Linked DNA regions of Homo sapiens: region 2 is linked to region 1. Evidence: fine-mapped expression QTL. A gene starts in region 1. The other region holds a variant in brackets. All regions are shown on one strand. Distances are from middle to middle.

Region 1 (10,334 bases):
ACCGAGCAGTCAAGCTAAGTGGATTCCCCAGGAGCAAGGCCTTGGCTTTGGCCCACGATTGCCCCTCACCCCCACAGCACAGCCCAAGCTCCGGCAGACACTGGCCTGGTGCGTCCCAGGCCCTCCACACATCTGTTTCCTCATCTGCAAAATGGGGGTGATCTCAGGCCACCCTCACAGATGTGTCCTGAGGACCGAAGGAGTTCGTTGCACGTAGGAAGTGTGCACACACACCCGGCCCCTGTGCCTGCCGCCTCAGCGTTTGAATTATGGCATCCGTCATTTCTGCAGGCATGCATTCATGCAGCATCTGTGTCTGCACAGCTGCGGGCCTGCATCCCTATGATTAGATCCACGCTCAAGTTCATGTGAACTGCAAGCACAAAGGTTCTAGCAGGGAGGGAAGATCACTCATCCAAGTCCGCCCAAGACTGGGGAAAGCCCAGCAAACTCTTTGGGAGGCGAAGGGGTCCTATCTGAGATCGTGGCCTTGGGAAATTACCCACAGCCTGAGGCATCACTCTGCGGTTTGGGATTGAGGGATTGAGATGGCTTTCCGAAGTCATCTCCCAGGGCTGCAGAGGGAGGGGCTCGCAGCCAGTTGTTCTAGCTGCTTTCCGTCTGCAGCACCACCCCTCTGATGGCAGCATCTGGATCCCCGCACATGACAGCTGGAATCCTAAATGTTCTGGGTTAGTGGTAACTTGTCTGGATTTTAACCTACATCTCTTCCTTCCTCATTGCAACAAGACTTCTCTTCTTGTCCCTGTCTATGGAGTTGAGGGTGGGAAGGATGCTTTGATTCAATGCTACCCTATGTCATGTCTTTTTGGAATACAACTTCCAGGCAAAGGGGAGAGCTTCCTCATCCCCATGGACAGAGAGGTGACCAGGGTTGCATTCACACCCGTTTGTTAAGCACCTGCTGCCTGCAGGCCTGTGAAACACCCTGTTGTCCTGGAGATACAGAGACAAGAGGCCTAGCCTCTAGGATTTGACATTGGGGACAGGCCCAGAAACACAACATGGCAGCACACTGTGGCTAGGGTGGAGGCAGACCTCGGTGCTGGCTGCTGCAGGGACACGGAGGAGGGACGCCCTTCTCAGCCTGGAGCTGGGAGGAGGCTGGGGAGCAGTGCCAGGAAAGGTGTCCCTGGGGATGAGAGCTTCTGTTTCTATTCCAGATTCCCAGAGTCACAGCGCAGAGGGGAGCCTTTGTGCTCATGGCTTTTTGACACTTTCAAAAAACAAACAAGAAAAAAACGGCATGGTCTCTGGAAGAAGTGGAGGAGTGACTCATGGGTGTCTCCCTTCTGCCTGTCTCTAGGCACCTGGGGCCACCAGAGTGCTTCTGCCCTGGGCTTTGAGGGAAGCTGATCACCTGGGTCTTCCTGGCAGGAACTAGCAAGTAGGGGCAGTTTTCAGGGGGTGGAGACCCCAAAGATAACATTGGTCTCAACCTTGATGCTGTTTAGAACCACCCAAAGAGCCAAAGCTCCCAGGTGGTGAGAGACAGGACTAGCTGGATTTCCCAGGCTGACTAAGAATCCCTAAGCCTAGCTGGGAAGGTGACCGCATCCACCGCTAAACACGGGGCTTGCAACTTAGCTCACAACCGACCAATCAGGTAGTAAAGAGAGCTCACCAAAATGCTAATTAGGCAAAAGCAGGAGGTAAAGAAATAGCCAATCATCTATTGCCTGAGAGCACAGCGGGAGGGACAGTGATCCGGATATAAACCCAGGCATTCGAGCCGGCAATGGCTACCCTCTTTGGGTCCCCTCCGTTTGTATGGGAGCTCTGTTTTCACTCTATTAAATCTTGCAACTGCCCACTCTTCTGGTCCGTGTTTGTTATGGCTGGAGCTGAGCTTTCACTCGCCGTCCACCACTGCTGTTTGCCGCCGTCGCAGACCCGCCGCCGACTTCCATCCCTCCGGATCCAGCAGGGTGTCCACTGCGCTTCTGATCCAGCGAGGCGCCCATTGCCGCTCCCGATCGGGCTAAAGGCTCACCATTGTTCCTGCACGGCTAAGTGCCCGGGTTCATCCTAATCGAGCTGAACACTAGTCGCTGGGTTCCGCGGTTCTCTTCTGTGACCCACGGCTTCTAATAGAGCTATGACACTCACCACATGGCCCAAGGGTTCATTCCTTGGAATCCGTGAAGCCAAGAACCCCAGGTCAGAGAGCAAGAGGCTTGCTGCCATCTTGGAAGCCACCCGCCACCATCTTGGGAGCTCTGGGAGCAAGGACCCCCGCCCCCAACAGTGACACTCAGCCTTGCTCTTAGAACTCACGTACCCTGTATCTTGTTTGATCTTCAGCCCATTGGGTACTTAGGATACCGAATGGCCTTCCCATCTCACAGAGGAGAAAGCCGATTCCTGGAGGCCAAGTGAATTCCCAAACACCGTAGACAGAGCAGGAGCCAGGCGTGGGGTCTGAGGTTTGCAGGTCCAGCACCTGCCCCTTCTCCACTCCGAGTCAGGGGACACAACCTGAAGTCCTGGCTGTGTGCTGCCTGGCATGTAGACCCAGTGGAGATGCTGCCAAAATGAGCAATTGAGGGTTCCCCGGAGCCCCTCTCTTCTGAGCCCCAAATCTCCTCCAGCTATTGTCCCCATGCGCCCGTCGTTGGTGCTGCTGTGCTGCAGCCCTGGCTGGACCTGGATTCTGGTTCAGGGCGGGTGCAGGGACAGGGTGCTCCAGGGTGTGAGGGCCCAGGAGGGCGTCAGGGGTACACCAAGCAGTGGGGAGAGCAGCAATAGAGCATCCCCACTTTTCTCCAAGTGCTCTCCTTCAGGAGCCGGGATGGGAAGGGCAGACGCGCACCATGTGAGAGCCACATGGCGAAGGCAGAGGTGGCTTTGGGATGCTGCACCTCTGAGCCCAGGGAGCAAGCGTTCCTGGAGACAGCAGAGGCCAACAGGGCGGGAAGGGCCCTGCCCACGCCTGGACTTTGGACTCCGGTCCTGTGGGGGAACACATTCCTGTTGTGTAGGCCCCCCGGTTTGTGGCACTTCGCTAAGGCAATGCCGGGAAGCTGATGCAGAGGGGTAAAGTGACAATCAGGCAGTGATTCCCCAACAGGTGAGCAGGACTGGGGAGGCTGGGGAGGCTGGGGAGATGACCCAGTCCACCTCCAGCACCCACCGCTGCTGAGAAGCCAGGCAGGAGGCAGTGGAGGGGAGGCGTTGAGAAGCGTGGAGACAAGCAAGTCTGGACCCTGCTCCGCAGACCAGACACCCCCCAGAGACACCCCCCAGAGAAGGCGGGCGTGGGAAAAGAGGCTAGGCTGGAACTACACCTGGGTGCCCCTCCTGGGAAGCAGGGGGTTTGTGAACACCTCCAAGGGGCCTCTCTGAAGCTGTGCTGTGGCTCTCGGCCTCCCCAGCCCCTGCTGGTGTGAAGAACACAGAAAGGGGTTGGAATAATCTAGCAGCTGCTTGCTGTCCCAGGCTGGCCAGCCCCCACAAAGTGTTCCCATCTGGCCCCAGCCTGCACAGGCAGCACTAGCAGCCCCCCGTGAGTAATTTGCAGGCTCGGATGGATGGGCAGAGCCCAACCAACTTCAGCCAGTGGAGGGAAGGCCTTGGCCTTTGCAGGTAGGGGAGACAGCTCAAGGCCAAAGATTCCCATCAAATCCTGAAACGCCTCTGCCCAGCCTGGCCACCCGAGACCGCACCCAGCCAGGAGCACTCCCCAGAGAGCCCACACACGCTTCCAGGTCTTCCTCCCCAGCCTGCCAACTCAGTCTCAGCATCACTGGTTTCATTTCACTTAAAAAAAATTTTGTTTCAATTTAGCTTCATTTGGTCATTTTAAAGAATAAGTTGTCTGTGCCCCCAGGTAGGGTTATTTTCTATGTTGCCCATCCTCTGCATAAGGCGTCACTGTCCCTGGGAATATACAGGGATTCTATGCCTGGCCTCGGAAACTGAAATGAAATAAATTTGCACCATGAGAGAGTAGGTCCAACTCTGCACAAATTAAAACAAAACACAACAAAAAATGTTTCAGCCAGAAGTAACATTCGACATGGTCTACCCCCATCAGCTCCTTTTACAGGTGAGGAAGTGGAGGCCTAAAAAGCTGGGAAGACTTGCTCAAGGTTATGCTCAAGGTTACATCCACCTCTTCCTGCAGGGTAGAGGCTGGAGGGTCTCAGAAAGGCTCCCTCCCTCCCTTCCTGCTTCACAGCTGGGGACTGGAGGCCCAGATCCAGACCCAGAAGCTGGAAAGAAATCCCAGGTTGTGAGGCCCGTCCTCCCACTCAGCCCCCAACTCTAGGCCTGGGACCCTCCACAGCCCTCCAGGCACCAGGGGACCAATCGGGATGGAACCAGCCCCTCAAGACCCAGGGCCACTACCTAGCAAGTCCCTCCTTATCTGGGTAGCCTATACCCCCCACCTTGCCTTCCCCAGACCCTGTGCTAGGGACCCCTGCCTCAGGAAGTGAGCCCTACTGAACAGATGGGGGGCGGCATTTGTGGCTCGCGGCCTCTTTCTCTGTCCCTCCCTCCCGGCCTGCCCCCTGCCCTTCGAAGAAATTGAATTCCAAGGAGGAAGAGGGGAGAAAGAACACCCAAACCCCTGCCTTCTCACTGCATAAATACCTAAATCCCGGGTCCTCCAGAGCCTGCCTGGAGCCTGCCAGCCGCTGCCTGCGGTCCTGCCCACAGCCTGAGGTCCCGGCCTGCACCTCCTCATAAGCCCACACTGGCGGTGCCATGCCATGGGCTCCCCTGGGCTCCCTCTGCCGCCCAGCCTGCCCCGCACACTCCACTCGCGCCGCCCGCCCTTTGCTGCAGGACGGGGCCAGCCAGGGCAACTCTCCGCAGCCCAGAGCTCTCGTCCCTTGAATCCTGCCGGTGGAGCAGGGGGCAAGGGGGAGCCAGGCACGCCCAGCCCCGGACCCGCAAGCAGGGACCCTCGGGGCGGCGGTCCGCACAGGGCAGGGGCTGCTGGAGACCCGCGGCCCCCACCCCCGACACTCACCGCGCGGTGCCCAGCGCGCGCCAGGGCTCCCATCAAGTCCTCTCGGAGCCCGCAGCAGGCTCCCACTTCTGTTTTTCTCTGACAGCCATGCAGGCAGCAGGCCTTCAGCCAGGCTCCCCGCCGCGCTTCCACGCACGCACACTCACAGTCACGCTCGTGCACACTCGCACGCACACGCACGCTCACGCTCATGCACACTCACACTCACATTCGTGTACATGTACACATTCACACCCGCATGCACACTCAAACTCACGCTCACGCACACTCACGCTCGTGCACGCGCACGCATACACACGCCCGCGCTCACACGGACACGAGAACTCGCCCCGCTGCGCGCCTGGCTCCCGGGACGCCTGGAGCTGGGGAGCGAGGGCCCCGGACGCCTGTAGCCGCCAGGGGAGGCCGGAGGGGCAGACGGGTGCAGAGAGCAGCCGGAAAGGCAGTGCCCGGCCACCAAGAGGCCGATTACTTGAGGGGCCTGAGGTGTGGAGCCCAGGCCGAAGACCCTGGGTGCGAGAAGGCAGCGGCCAGGAGGCCGCCCTAGAGCCTCGGGAGCGGGCGGGGGAAGGGGGATGTCCACGGAGACCAGAGTTGGTGGCTCTGACCGAGGAGGGCCTCGCGCTCCCCACGCCACTTGGCAGGGCTGGGGACACGCGCCCTCTCCCCCCTCTCCCTGGGGCCGCGCAGGGCTGTACCCGGGCTCTGCCCAGATCCCCTCGGAGCGGAAGATGCAAGTTGGCTTTTGTCTGACCCGGTCAGACAGAGCCGTTCTGTGGGATAAAGGCTTAACGCTCCGTGAACACGCAGAAAAAGCTCCGCGCTGGCCCTCTGACAATCCCATTGTCTCGGGCCTGAGCCCGGCGGTTTGGTCTGAAAGCGCCAAGTTCATGACATTTCAAAGAGCAATGATACTGGGAGAGGGGGGTGGGCAGGGGAGGGAGGGGTGTGCAGGAGAAATACATTCCTAAAATACGAAGTAACAGTATCTGACTCCCTCGCCAGCGCGTTCCTCAGCTCAGCCCCCTGCCCCACCCTCCACGAACCCATTCAGACCGAATCCCCTTCTCCAGCCCCGTGTGGACCCAGAGCCAGGCTGCAAAAGTCAGGATCACCAGGGACTGCGGTTTGGAAGGTGAAGGTGTGAAAAGATGCCCAAGTAGCTGCGTGGAAGCTTCCTGGAATGTCAGCAGAGTGACAGCAGCCGTTTAGCACAAGCTCCCATTGTCTGCACTGCCCCACAAGATAAGAATTTGCCAAAAAGGACTTTAGGTGCCCACATGAGTTTATTTTAAAGAGCTAGAGTGTTACTGTTTTCTTTCATTTGTATTACTGTTCGTACTATATCCTTTAAAAAAAAAACTATTTTCTGAGCCAGGAAGCAAAGGAGCTTCCATTTTTAGTGTTTAATTTGTTTAATGTGCCTCGGCAAAAGCAAATAATTCCTGAGAGAAAGCAGAATCCTCAGGAAATTGAATGTGTTTTGTCTCCAGCGAAGTTTCCCTTGAGTGATTTCGTTTGCTTTCTGTCTCGCCAAGCAGGCTCTGCACTGGGACCTCCAGCAGGCTGGGGCCAGGCTGGGCAGTCTGCAGCCCCTCTCCCCACCTTAGGTGGTGAGGCTTCTCTGATCCTCAGCCCACTGGCCAGGTAAACTGTGCTCCCGAAGAACAAAACGTAGCCTTGTAGAGTCATTCTAATGCGAGGAGAAAATAGGATTAGGCCAGAGTGTCAGCCAGGTAAGTCGGATTAACAGCAAGGTCCAATACATTTTGGCATTCTTGTGCTATTTTTAATTGTACAAAGGTATATGCTTCCCTTCCCTGGCTTTATTTAAAGAGGCTGTTTGTTTGTGCCCAAGAGGTAAATGATGAGCGATAAGGCTCTATGAGGAATTGGAAATGTATAACCTTGCAAAATGACATTTCGCCCTGGAAAGTGTGACACGCACACACGGGTAGATAAAGGGAGAGTGCGGAGCGTCCCGGGCTTTGTTAACGCTTCTTGCCCCCTGGCGTTGCTTTGATGGAAGGACACCCCACGCCTGGCTGCAGAGGTGTCTGCCAACGGCAGGAGCTCCTTCCCCACAGGCAGCCAGGCAATGACTACAAATCGATTCATTTTAAAAAAATATCCAAAGTCAGGTGTTAAAAAACGTATGAACCAGGATGGTAGGTCATTAAACCGTGGGAGAAAAGAGTTGGCAAAAACCTGCTTATATTATTTTTTAAAATATATATCTGTATTGCATTTTGCCACATGCAAATTTAGTCTAGGTTTGTTAATCAGGATCATGTGAGTGTGTCATAAATTAACATGATTTCTTCGGGGCAAGTCAAGAGAGAATGTATAATTGTTTAAGTTTGCAAATCATTTAGCAATTAACTTGGGGGGCAGAGGGCTGCAGTTCCCGGGTGGCCAAGGACATTCATGAGCCATGTGGAAGTTACTGAGTCGAATTGTAACTGTCCATGGCATTTCTGACCGTCCTTTCCAGGCCAAATGACAGACAGAAAGCCAGAGGGGACAGCACTGAATCCAAATGCTTTTGCATTCTGGGTGAGTGTGAACTGAGGGCACAGAAGCTTGGGGCCAAAGGAGAAGAAAGTTGCATTTGATCAAAGTTCCCCCTTTTGGGCAGAGGGCTGAGAGTGAGGATGACCAAGGGGTTTTGGCTTCCCTTTCAGACTCTGCATATGTGAGGTGGCAGGGCAGGGTTTAGGAATGTCATTTTCCTTAGATAGAGAAGGGTGTTCCCAAAAGAATTGTCCAGGGGTCAGGATTCTGGGAAAGCCATAACAGATGTATGTCTGTGAGGGCTTCCATCAGCTCGTGGAATGTTTTCTTCCTGTTGCAGAAACAGAAAGAGCAGTTTGTTGAATCTGAGAGTCGGTTTTGCCGACCTTGTTTAACTGCTGTCTGTCTGAGAGCTTCTTGCAGAGACGCTGGAGAATTCCTGGGGCGGGGGTTATTTCAAACTCAAGAATCTATCATTCCATTTTGATTAATCTGGTAAAGCAGGGTTCTGTTTCTCTTTTAAATTTTTTCTTCTTTTCCATATTTAACATAGATATGCATGTACATGAGAAGTAATGGACATTCAAAAAGCCAGATCCTGCTGATTCCACATTTCAATGGCTTGGTTTGCCAACTCATGCATGGGTGCCTCTAAACACTAATCAGTAATCCAGTTCATTGCTAAGGCTGCAGAGCTCCAGGATCTCTTATTTTCTCACAGGTGGGAAAAGACCCCCCGACCTTCTTGGTCTAAGCTCTCTTCTGGTTACTTGGTACCCACATGTTTACAAGGTATTTATTTTCATTAGACCTCCGATCGTTCTAAAGGCCTGCAGAGCCCAACCCTTCCTGCCTCCTCCTCTCCCCATCTTTAAGCTATAAAACCTTGGCGGAGTTTTCTGGGCTGTTCTCCAGGTTTTTGTTTTCCCCACTGTCCAGCATGGTACCTGAGATTGAGTGCAGGTGCAGCCGGCAGGACACAGTGGCTCCAGCGCCAGCTTCCGCTCCATCTCTACCCCATCCTTCTCCTCTGACTTATTTTGCTGTAACTCTGCACTTAATCTGATGAGGAAGGGTCCCTAGAATGTAGAATGTTGAACAAAATTCTCCCTAAAACAGGAGGAAGAGCTGGCCGTGGGGAGCGGGTTCTATAGTAGCTGCAAGTTGACCAAGTATGTAGAAAACATCAAAATGTGTCTCCATTCCCTTTCCTTGGGTCTGGGAGGAATGTCCCTGAGCCGTTCTTCCCAGCCCTTTTGTAACTAGCAGATGCATTTGTTAGAGAGGTCCTCTTGTTATCCCTGTTCTCAGCATTGTTCTTTCAGCTAGAAATTCACAGTAAAGGTGAGCCATCCTCCGAGGCCGAGGGGCATAGCTGAAACTCAGCAACAGGAACAGAAGTGAACCTCTCTTCACCATGTGTATTCGTGGGGTGGGGGTGGTGAAGGGGAAAGGAGATAGTGTTTGATTTTGTGAATCCAGGGTGAGGCTACAGGGACCCCAGAAGCCTCCTCTTCAGGCCCTTCAGTCAGCAAAGGCGGCCTCCCATCCCCAAGGCGCAAGCAGCGCAGATACCATCACAGCCGTAGCCCAAGCGCGCGGGCCCTCGGCCACTGTGTGCCTTCCCCGGACGTTGGTCTATGCGGAGCAGCCCTCAAGCCTGACTGATCCGGGTCTGCATCCCGCGGGTCTGGACGCGAGCTGGGCATCCGACCGCACCGCGGCGGGACGGGGAGCGCGGCCGCCTGGAGCTGCTTCTTCTGGGCGCTGGGCGCACGCTGCCGAGCGCGGGGCTGGGGCTTCCGGGGGCCAAGCCGGCTCAAGCCCGCACAGGCTCGCGGCGGGGCTGCCTGGCTGCCGCGTCTTGGATCCGGCCTGGGCCTGAGCTCCTGGACCTGGGGTTTTGTTTTGTTTCGTTTTTGTGGAGGAGAGGGGGTTTGGAGACATGAATTGCACTGGCATGGTGTAGGGGAAATATTTGGAGATAGTTGGCAAGAATTCATCCCCAGGTCCAAGGAGTCCAACTAAGCCCGGTTTTAGGGAAGCCCAGCCAGATGTATCTTGAGACAGAAAAGGACATCGTGCTAGGTCTGTGGGGCGGACGCTGAAGAGTTGCCCCGCTAGGAATTTCCTTCCTTTGCAACCGTGAAGGGCTCGCTGCTGCAGTCCAGTGAGCCGTGGGACTCCAATGCCTGCTTCCCACCGCCAGCCTGTTCAGGGGAAATCAGATCAAATCCACCTGCAATCACAACTCCTTTATCAGCTGGGGGGCCCCAAATCTAAAGGGAGAAATGGGACGCTTTAGGAGCCCACCTAATTTGTGATGAGAAATGGAGAAGGGGAAATTCATATCCAATAATAAACTGCTGTAAAAGTAGGTTTGGAAGAAGAAAAGTGAAAACAGTACATATGTTTGTAAGTATGTGCTCATATTTATTGAATATTTGTCTTCTCTAAGTATAGCTTTATTAGGTGTCATAAAACCCCTGAGTTGAGCAGAGTCCAAAAGCCGTCTTTTGGCCAAGCTCACACACATCAGCTCTCTTCCTGGGTGTCCCCCGTGCATTTTATTTATCTTTCAGTTTATTCAAACTTATTTTGAGCCACATGAAGGCAGTTTTATTTGGCTAGTAGAGATTGTGTTTAATTCATTGAGTATGCATTGTCAAAGTTTAGACGTCAATGCCAGCCTGAATTCCAAATTGGGAAGTTAAATATTTGTTTTTAATTTTCTGGCTCAAAAATGTTAACTAACAGAAATGATTCTTTCTGCTCTAATGTGCTTGCATAAATGGGGTTATTAGAACTTTCCCCTAAAACA
Region 2 (10,334 bases), 20 kb before region 1:
GCACACTCCCACACCCCACACTCCACACCCCGCACTCCACACCCCACACTCCACACCCCACACCCCACACTCCCACAGCCCACACTCCCACACCCCACACTCCCACACCCCACACTCCCACACCCCACACTCCCACACCCCACACTCCCACAGCCCACACTCTCACACCCCACACTCTCACAGTCCACACTCTCACACCCCACACTCCCACACCCCACACTCTCACACCCCACACTCCCACACCCCCACACTCTCACACCCCACACTCTCACACCCCACACTCTCACACTCCACACTCTCACACCGCCGCTGCTCCTCTCAGAAAGTGCCTGGCGGCATTGGCTCTGGGTCTGGGGCCGGTCTCTTCATAACCGCAGCCCCCAGAAGAAATGAAGACTCATCCCTGGAGCCAACACACCTTAAAGCCGTAAACACTGGACCGAGACCACTTGCATTTGAACCCCAGCTCTACCGCGGGTGAGCTGTGTGACCTTGACTGAGCGTCTTAACATCTCCCCACCCCGGTTTCCACATTTTTGAAAGGGTGACAACAATAATACCCACCTCATGGGGTGGTTTCAAAGATTAATTTAGTTAATATTTATCAATCACGCAGCAACATGCCTGGTTCGGGGTAAGCGCTCTATCTGCGTTTGTGAAACGAGTTAAAGGAAATGGCGCTATCATAGCACAGTCAGGCATTTGATTCTTTCCTTCTGATCTTTGATGTTCCATGTATACAACCAGGAATTTTTACATGCATAATTGCCTGGGAATTTCAACTGCATATGGTAGCACTTTCTGCTTTCAAACCATTTCTGAGGTGGTCTGTAGGCCCCCAGTTCTGCTAGATGCTTTCACAAGTAAACACTGAGAAGAATGCCTGATCCCTGCCCTCAGAGAGGTTGGTGGATTTGGGAAGACAAGAAGAATCCACATGGTTCAGGAGGAAAACCTGTGGAGAAGCCTGTAATGAGGAGCAAAACTGTGTGCAGCCGAGCGGAGGGGCGGGCATGGTTGAAGTGGGGCCAGGCAGCAGCCATGGTGGGGGTGACAAGAACCACAGCCGCTTCCTGCTGGGGCGTCCTGTGGGCTTCACGAATGCCACCACCTAGATGAGGACACGAAGGCTCAGAAAGGTCACACAAGACACACGGCTCACAGTGGGGAGGTGGGGCCTTCTGCCCATCACCTGCTCGGCAGCCCTGGTCCTTAAAGAACGCTCCGGTGAGGGGATCCGCATGGCCCGGCTGAGCTGGAGTGTGGACTCCTGGAGACGGTCCAACCGGACGGGGAATGTGTCAGGAGGAAGGAGCTGCTGGGAGGCCAGGAGCTGCTGGCAGTTCCCACCCTGCCCGGGTAGCACAGGCCCCCACAGGCTGTGGGCGGGAGATGCTGAGGGTTTTTTGAGCCAAGGGGCTCTGGAGGAAGGCAGAGGCCCAGAGCCACTGGCACCTCTGAGCAGGGGTGACTGGGGCGAGGACTGAGTCTGGGGTCCTGTAACCAGTCGAGTCGTACTGGGCGAGCCGAGGGGACCGTGCCTCAGCACACAGGTGGAGGGTTCGGGGGCAGCCTGTGGCTCTCCCAGGGACCGGCTGCGTCTCCCCTTCTAGCTCTGCCCTCTGCTGTGTGTCTCGCAAACACCACCCCGTGGACTGTGAAAAAAAGATTTCAGAAACTGGGAGAATTGCTGTCAGGCTTCCAAGCCAGCAGCACAGAAAAGGCAGAAAGACACCAGGACGGTTCTCTCGAACTCAGTTTAAATATGGAGGGATTTTGTCATTTTTTTAAACAAGAAAATCTTGTTTGATATTCTCTTTCTAATTGATTCTTCATATTTTCCTTTAAAAAATATTTCAAGCAGCTGTTTCCTGATAGGAGAGAAGCAGGGAACTGACACCCACAAATTCCTCCGGGCGGTGGTGCTGGGGCCGGGGCAGCGGGGCAGGTGACCCCAGGCGCAGGACGCTCACCTATGCTGCCTCAGCAAGTCGGGTGGGCTTGAATCCCCCTTCCAGGGCCGCAGCCTGCAGAGCCACCTCCTCACAAGACCACAAGCAGGCCTGGGCAGGCACCAGACGGGGAGACGGGAATGCTGGCCCTGAGCTCAGCCCTTGACCCGGTGGTGGGGCCACAGGTGCCATGTAACGATGATGGGTACCACTTGGGGATGAAGGCGGGGGCCTGTGCCAACTGACTTCTGACCCACAGGAGCCCTCTCCACAGCGTGAGTGGGGACGGGACCAGGTGGCAGCACCTCCCGGGATGGGCTCTGGTCCTGGCACCTCCCTGGGCGAGTGCTGGGCCTGCTTCCTCCCCTGCCCAGTGGAGAAGAGAGCAGCCGCCCTGGGGGAGCTGTTCTGGGGAGAGGGCAAAAAAGGGACAGGGAAGGCTTTGAAGGGGATGCTGGTGCAGTCCCTCAGGCGCCCCACCTCTCAGGAAGATGGGCCCCGCTGGGGGGCCCGTGGTGTGGAGGCCACGCTGCTGCCCGGGCTGAGGGACCCGAACCTGCAGGCCCCAGAAAATAAAAGGGTGGAGTCACCCACCTCCAGCCTGGGGCTGCACCAGCCCAATCCCCAGCCCCAGCAGGGGCTGCCCACCTCCAACTTCCCCACCCCATGGCCCTCCTCCTGCTGTCGTCTCCCCATCATAGTTCCTGCACCACACGTCTCTGGAACCGTATAAAGTTATGCGTCTGAGTGGCTGACAGCAGCCTCCAGGCTAAACTTTTGATCCGCTGTGTGCTGACATCTTCAAACCAGAGCGGGTCTCTCCCTCTCTGTTCCTGGGTTGGCGGTGGCAGGTCTCCTGCAGTATATGGCATGCAAATAAGCAGGTCTGCGCTGTCACTCCCTAGCTGCCAGACCCCTGCCTGGTGCCTGGAGGTGGCTGTCCCTCCAGCCACCTCCAGCAGCGAGGCCAGAGCCCTAGGCTGCTCCCCACCCCTTTGTTTCCTTCTGGGAGGTGCTGGTGACCGAGGCTCAGGAGGGCACCTGCCCCTAGGAAGGGGCTCCCCCAGGGATCCCCGCAGTAGAGAGGGGGCCACTGAGGGGTGGGTGGGCAGTGGCTGGGGGCTGCCTGCATGGACTGAGCTTCCTCCCAGGCTCAACCCCCACCCCCCATCAAATCCACCTGACTCGCAGAGGCTGTTAGAACTGGGGGGCTGTGAATCTGGCCACCTGGCCTGGTCCCATAGCTAAGGTTCAGTGGGAGTCTCAGCCCCAGCTCCTGGCATGGGGTAGCTCAGGAAAGGGGCTGGAGCTGACAGGTGTGATGAGGGTGAGGTGGGTGAGGTGGGTTTGGGGCCAAGGGGAGCCTGGGAAACCAGGTGAGAGGTATGGGAGGCTGCAGTGGGGCCAGGAATCCTGGGTCTCATCCTTGTTCCCATGCCAGCAGCACAGGCTGACACTTTGTCACAGATCTACTGGGTCCCCACCACTTAGCCCCTCTGTCCAGCCTCCGCAGCCCCTGGGAGTAAAGCCCTTTAATCTGAAGACTCAAAAACCCATCTCTTCCTGGAGCCAGAGGCCCAAGTGGCTGCCAGTGAGAGTCTGCTGCCAGCCCTCCCTGCTGGGCTCACCCACGGCTCCCGCCAGGCGCACAACAGCATCTGCGGACTCCTGCCCTGGCTCCTGGGTCACTTCTGTCTCTGGGAGAGGCTTTGGGCTTGAACCCTGGCAGCTTCATTGGACAGCGGTCCCAGCCTGCATGCCAGGTCCTGTCAGTGTCCTGGAGGGTCCTGTACTGGTCCTGGTCTCTAACCCTGTGCGAGGCCATTTGGGCTTACTTTTCTCTCTCCGAGATCTGCTCCTGGTTGCAGCGTGGTGACCAGTGAAATCTTGCATTTCTCTGCTGTGCCCCCAATCCCTCCAAAGAACATGGCCTCCTGGGATGCTCTCTGCCCTCCAGGCCCTCTGCCCGGCTCCCTCCTCACCCACCATGCCAGGCGCACGACACCCCAACACCGCAAAGACTTTCAGTCAAAGTATCCTCCCCTCCCTGCTCCTAACACCCTTGCTCTCCCTTGGAGGTCCAGAACAAAGAGGTCATTTCTTCTGGAAGGACCTCTTGTTCCCATGGCTACAAAATCCTCACTATTTACTCCCTTCTCTGTGGGCACGACCAGAGACAGCACTGCT[C/A]TTGTATTTCTTATGATGAAGATCAATGGGATGTCCTAGTGGTCTTCTGGGCATCCACATGATTGCATCATGGGTTGCAAGCCCCCAACAGAGAAAGTCTGTGCACCTGGACCCGCTCTTCCTTCTATTATGCACATAACCTGCCATGTTACAGGTTAGGGGAAGCACATAAGAAGGTGTGTGCTGTGGGCTGAATCCCCTGAATTCATATGCTGGATCCTGATCCCTGGGACCTCAGAATGTGACTGTATGTGAAGCTGGGGTCTTCACAGAGGTCATGAAGGTTAAATGAGGTCACATGGGAGGCCCTAGTGTAATATAGCTGGTATGCTTATATGAAGGGGGGATTAGGACACAGACACACACAGAGGGATGCCCTGTGAGGAGACTGCTGACTGCAAGCCAAGGCAGGGGCGGGGGGAGGGGAGGTCGAGAGAAACCAGTCCCTGCTGACACCTTGGCCTTGGACTTCCAGCCTCCAGAGTTGTGAGGAAGGAAAGCTCTTGTTTAAGCCACCCATGGTATTAATATTTGCTAGGGCAGCCCCCAAAAACTCAGACAGTGCATGTGTGGTGAACCAGAGATGGCTCTCAATTCTTCACCGCCTGTTACAGATTGGTGCCTGTCTGACCTGTGCCATGGGGTTCTGCAGGGTCCCCGCTGTGGTGGACGGAGTACACATTCCTGCCCTGGGACTTGGCCTTGGCCAGGTGACTGCTGCCAATGGAACATGAACAGAAGTGACAATACCCCATCTAAGCAGAGACACTAAGTATGATCCACGGCCTGGTTTGCTCTCTGGCATCTCTGCCATCCACTCAGGAGAGTGTTCCCAGACCCCACTGATCCCAGAATCAGAAACATGTGGAACAGACTTGACCAACAGCCTGACGCAGGGCTGCTCATTGCCCAGAGACCCCAAAGCAAGAAAAACACACGTTTGCTGCAGGAAGCCATTTCCATGTTGGGGCCATTTGTTATGCAGCCTTGTCACAGCAGTGGCTGACTGATACCTTAGCAACCTCATTTCCTGTCCCACACCTGCCTCATTCCTTCTGCTTTCTACACAGGTGGCCACCGTTATTAGTTTAAAAAGGCGTTTGCTTGGTGAGGAAGAAGAGGGAGAATCAAGCAAAGGCATTTGGACTTTATTCCACAGGCAACGTAGATCAGTGGAAGGTTGATGAAAGGGAAGTTCCATGATGAAATCACCGGGGAATTATTCTATCAGTGCTCCCCAGGCTGCTGGAGAAATGAGGGAGGAAAAACAGACACAGAAAAACCTGGTCATGGTTTTTATTATTTCTCTTAAATTCAGCTCCACCCCATCTCTTCAAAGAATTTTCCTCTTTGGTTTTAATAATGTGCTTAAGCCACAAGTTGAACAGTCTTCCATCCTCCAAGCTGTCTTCTGGCTGAGGGAGGCTGCTCTGGGCTTGGTGGGCGGTGGAGGAACGGGTAGCGGTTGGGGACTGTGTCGCAGCTGGCCCAGCCACTCTCCCTTTCTTGGGGTGTACTAATCTGACTCCCAGAATGGTGCCGACTCTTTCCAAGGCTTCACATTCCTCCTCCTCTAGCTCGGGGGAAAGTGAGTCCTGATTTAGACTTCTGTAGTCAGGCAAAGAATTTCTGAATGCAGGGGGCTACTCCAGGCTGGATGAAAAACCCACTTTCATGCCAGCTGGGTTTCTGACAGAAATGCCACAAGCTGGCACCTGGCAGTGTTACTGGGCTGGCAAAGTCAGAAAACTTTGAATTTGTGCAGCTCACACGGTGCAGCCTTCAGCATTTTACAGACGTGCCCATGTGACTTGCATCTTTGAAAGGGGATGGTGTGGGAAGTCATGTTAGATCACCTCTGATATGATTAGGACCTAATGGTGTTATTTGAAGTTCCAGCTCAAGTCCAGTCAGGTCACAGTCACTGCCACAGATCAGGAAATCGTGCTGACCTGGATTCCTCGGTTCCCCCTTGTCTGTTTAATTGACGGCCACTTTCTCATCAAGGCCATCAGCAGCCAGCACACAGGCTTTTTAAAAATTAGGCCTCAAGAAACAACAATAACAAAGTAAAATCTGTCCTGATTTTTAGGCTTAACCTTTGAAAATGTTCTCTCTCTAAAGAGAAGAGGTGCCTTCAGTCCAGTGAAGAGCGCTGGGCTGCTACCCGAAGCATCTGCACGGGAAGGAAACGAGATGAGTCGGTGACTCGTTGCCACAGGGGCACGCATGGTACACGCAGCACAGCACCAGGAGCTGGAGCAGGCTGCACAGGGCGAAAGTCAACAGGCACACGGTGGGCTTGAGGGGCTTCTGCAGAGGGAGTGGGGGACAGGAGTGACGCCTGGGTGCCAGTCCTGAAGGCACCTCTTCTCTTACATGCTTGGACTGTGTGACCGTGACAAATCCCTCTCCCACTGTGAGGTTCATCCAGAAAATGGGGTGACCTCACAGCCTCCCCGGAGTTCTGTGAGCGTCAAGGGGACACCATGTGGAAACCCCTAGCACCGTGGCTGTTTGTGGGTGCAGAATCGTGTGCACGAAGCGAACAGAGGCTTCCACGTGGCCTTCATCTCTGCTTCTTTCGCAAAGCAAACCTTGGCCCCGAGATGACAGCTGCTTTGTGTTTTACACCCTGGGGCTGAGTCTGCCAACTGTCCCATGGTGTCCAGACTCCCCTAACTCCTTTCAGCAATGGAACCTGGCCAACGAGTGTCAGCGGGGCTGCAGCTGGGGTGGCAGGGGGGTGTGCAGAGACGCCCTCTCCTCTTGACTCGTCCTCATGGAGGAGGCTGCTTGCCATCCGCTCTCATTTCCCACTCCCTCCACCTGCAGCACGGATGTGGGGCTGTTGCCCCTCAGTCACCCAGGTGAGGGTGATGCCCCAGGATGGCAGGGCAATGGGACGGGGGAGCCCGGCCCCGGGCACCGTGGGAATGCTGTGGACTCTAGGCTGCTGGTGGGAGGGAGTTTTCTAGGGCTGCCTCCAGGGTGCTGGCCACATCCCAGCATCGCACAGGGTTGGTCCTTTTCCCCTCATCCTCATAACACCCAAATGAGGCAAGCACTATTACCTCTGTAAGCGAGGAGACGGAGGCGCACAGAGGTTCACCAGCTATCTAGAAGCACCAGAGCTGGGGCTGGAGCCAGGCTGACTGCCCCGGAGTGTGAGCTTGTGGCCGTGATCAAGCCTGGCTGGCATCTATCACAGTCAGGCACTGTGTGCGGCTCTAGGCACACAAAGGCCAGGTCTGCAGGGGGATGCCAGTCAGAGGGGAAGGGAGACAGGTTGCCCTGAGGACAGCAACGTGGTCAGTGCGTCAGTGCTAGGGCAGGCGGGCGGTGATCTCAGCGGGAGGGACAGGCATCTCCGAGGCAGGGGACGGGTCTGCCAGTGGTCCCAGGTGCTGTGCTTCCTCCCGCACTCCTGCCTTGAGGTTTGTGGCCCCACCTGTCACCTGTCCTTCCTCAGCCTTTTCTGGTCGCCAGAACGCCTCCTTGCGTAGTAGTAGTTACAACTACTGAACCCTAATAGTTACTACTACTGAACACTAATAGTTACAGGAAAATTGTCAGGTGTTAAGTAGAAGTGTAAAATTGAGACTGTTTCCCTGGCATAAAAAGAATTGAACACCAGAGTTGTGGAGAGAAAGACATCTTGGTCATGGAGAAAAAGTTCTGTTTATCTCTTCTCGGAAAACTGCGGAACTCTCGGATGCCACCTTAGAGAAGCCACACAGCTCAAGAGATGTGCTGGGTCTCCACGCAGCAGGGGAAGCAGGAGCAGAGGCAGGGCTGGAGAACAGGAGGAGGAACGTGGCAAGGGTGTGGCTGGCAGCTGGCGAGGCTGCAGTCCATGACGTGGGGGGATTCGGTGGCAGGGGTAGCCTGCAGGGGGCGGCAGTGAGCGGAGCGCACCCTGGGTGGTGAGTGGAGGCCTCAGCTCCAGCCTGGCTCCGGCTTGCCACGTGAACATGGAGGGCTGGCCCCTCGCCTCCCACCCTTTTCCCTCCTGGTGTCTTTGGACGGTTCAGGGCTTCCTAACTTCTCGAAGACTCAGTGTCTTCTTCTGTGGGGGCAGCCTTCACAAAGTGCCACAGACCCGGGGGCTGAAAACAGTGGAAATGTATCCTCCCACAGCTCTGCAGGCTGGACGGCAGAGACCCAGGGGTCAGCAGGCCTGGCTGCTTCTGGAGATTTCGAGGGAGGGTCTGTCCCAGGCCCTCTCTTAGCTGCTGGTGCCACTGGTAACTCTTGGCGTCACGTGGCTTATGGATAAATTGCTCCCGTCTCCGCCTCCGTCTCCACTTGGTCTCCCCCAGGTGTCTCTGTGTCTCCTCTGGTCTTAGAAGTGAGAGGTGACAGAGTGCTGGCAGTCCTCACAGCCCTCGCTCGCTCTCGGCGCCTCCTCTGCCTGGGCTCCCACTTTGGCGGCACTTGAGGAGCCCTTCAGCTCGCCGCTGCACTGTGGGAGCCCCTTCCTGGGCTGGCCAAGGCCGGAGCCGGCCCCCTCAGCTTGCCGGGAGGTGTGGAGGGAGAGGCGCGGGCGGGAACCAGGGCTGCGCGTGGTGCTTGCGGGCCAGCGTGACTTCCGGGTGGGCGTGGGCTCGGCGGACTCCGCACTTGGAGTGGCTGGCCAGCCCCACCGGCCCCAGGCAGTGAGGGGCTTAGCACCTGGGCCAGCAGCTGCTGTGCTCAATTTCTCGCCGAGCCTTAGCGGCCTTCCCGCAGGGCAGGGCTTGGGACCTGCAGCCTGCCATGCCTGAACCTCTCCCCGCACCCCCCGTCCCCTGCCTCCCCGCCCCCCCCGCCCCCCGCCCCCCGCCTCCGTGGGCTCCTGTGCAGCCCGAGCCTCCCCAACGAACACTGCCCCCTGCTCCATGGCGCCCAGTCCCATCGACCACCCAAGGGCTGAGGAGTGCAGGCGCACAGCGCGGGACTGGTAGGCAGCTCCACCTGCAGCCCCAGTGCGAGATCCACTGGGTGAAGCCAGCTGGGCTCCTGAGTCTGGTGGAAACTCGGAGAACCTTTGTGTCTATCTCAGGGATTGTAAACGCACCAATCAGCGCCCTGTCAAAACAGACCACTCGGCTCTACCAATCAGCAGTATGTGGGTGGGGCCAGATAAGAGAATAAAGGCAGGCTGCCCGAGCCAGCAGTTGCCACCCGCTCCAGTCCCCTTCCAGGCTGTGGAAACTTTGTTCTTTCTCTCTTTGCAATAAATCTTGCTGCTGCTCACTCTTTGGGTCCACACTGCCTTTATGAGCTGTAACACTCACCACGAAGGTCTGCAGCTTCACTCCTGAAGCCAGCGAGACCACGAGCCCACCGGGAGGAACGAACAACTCCAGACGCTCTGCCTTAAGAGCTGTAACACTCACGCGAAGGTCTGCAGCTTCACTCCTGAGCCAGCGAGACCACAAACCCACCAGAAGGAACAAACTCCGGACACGCCGCCTTTAAGAACTGTAACACTCACCGCGAGGGTCCGCGGCTTCATTCTTGAAGTCAGTGAGACCAATAACCCACCAATTCGGACACAGAAAGACACAGTCATGTTGGAGTAGCCCCTGCCCACTCCAGCCTGACCTCAGCCTAACTCATTCCATCAGCAAGGACGCTGCTTCTGAATAAGGCCACGCCCTGAGGTTCTGGGGTGAGGACTTCCACATAGCATTTAGGGACACACAATTCAGCTTGTAACACTCGGTTTCCTCAACTTGGAGGGAAACACTGTTACCCACCCAATAGGGTTTTTGAAAGGATTAAATCATTAATGCATAGAAAGTTCTTTGCACTAGAGCTTGGCCCATCTTAAGAGCCACATCAACATGACCTATTATTACTGATATCTTGGGAAGAGTTTTGTAACATTCTGTGCCATGTTAAAGGTGAGGTTTGGGCTTGGGAGCTGGATGGTCTGAGGCCATGGAGACCCAGGTTTTCTGCTTACATCTGGACTAAGGCCTTGTGAGACCTCAAGTGTTTAAAAAGCAAACCCTCTAAGTCTGTGTTCGCTTCCCTTTGCCACGGGGGCACAATTGCTGCTCAAGAACCCATTCCCTGATAACACAGCAGGAGACCAAGCAGGCTGTGCGGGGCCACGGTCACTAACCGGCTCTGGGGCACCCCACGAGCTGCCCCCACCAAGGCCAACTTCCAGCCTCAGAAGAGAAGAGTCTGAACCAGGCGCTG

Which allele goes with the higher level. Positions count from the first base shown, and alleles are read on the strand shown. Sizes are in standard deviations (SD) of each study's normalised expression.
For the expression in spinal cord of the gene that starts at base 5,239 in region 1, allele C in region 2 goes with a lower level than allele A (large effect, 1.0 SD a copy in GTEx).

What was found.
Region 2: its variant is fine-mapped to the expression of LINC03010 in spinal cord (GTEx, PIP above 0.99). The same link has a PIP of 0.9 or more in amygdala, anterior cingulate cortex, caudate, hippocampus, hypothalamus and prefrontal cortex.

Annotation. Positions count from the first base shown.
Region 1 is chr7:155,376,981-155,387,314 of GRCh38, reverse strand. It overlaps LINC03010 (long intergenic non-protein coding RNA 3010), which reads right to left and starts at 5,239. Exons shown (of 3, transcript NR_147174.1): 1 at 5,000-5,239. RefSeq lists enhancers at 4,370-5,181, 5,182-5,993, 8,729-9,229.
Region 2 is chr7:155,396,870-155,407,203 of GRCh38, reverse strand. LINC03010 (long intergenic non-protein coding RNA 3010) reads right to left here. Exons shown (of 3, transcript NR_147174.1): 3 at 5,422-6,315. Among named protein-coding and RNA genes, the nearest start is that of LINC03010, 20 kb to the right of the region's middle. The variant C/A (reference allele first, on the strand shown) is at 4,140.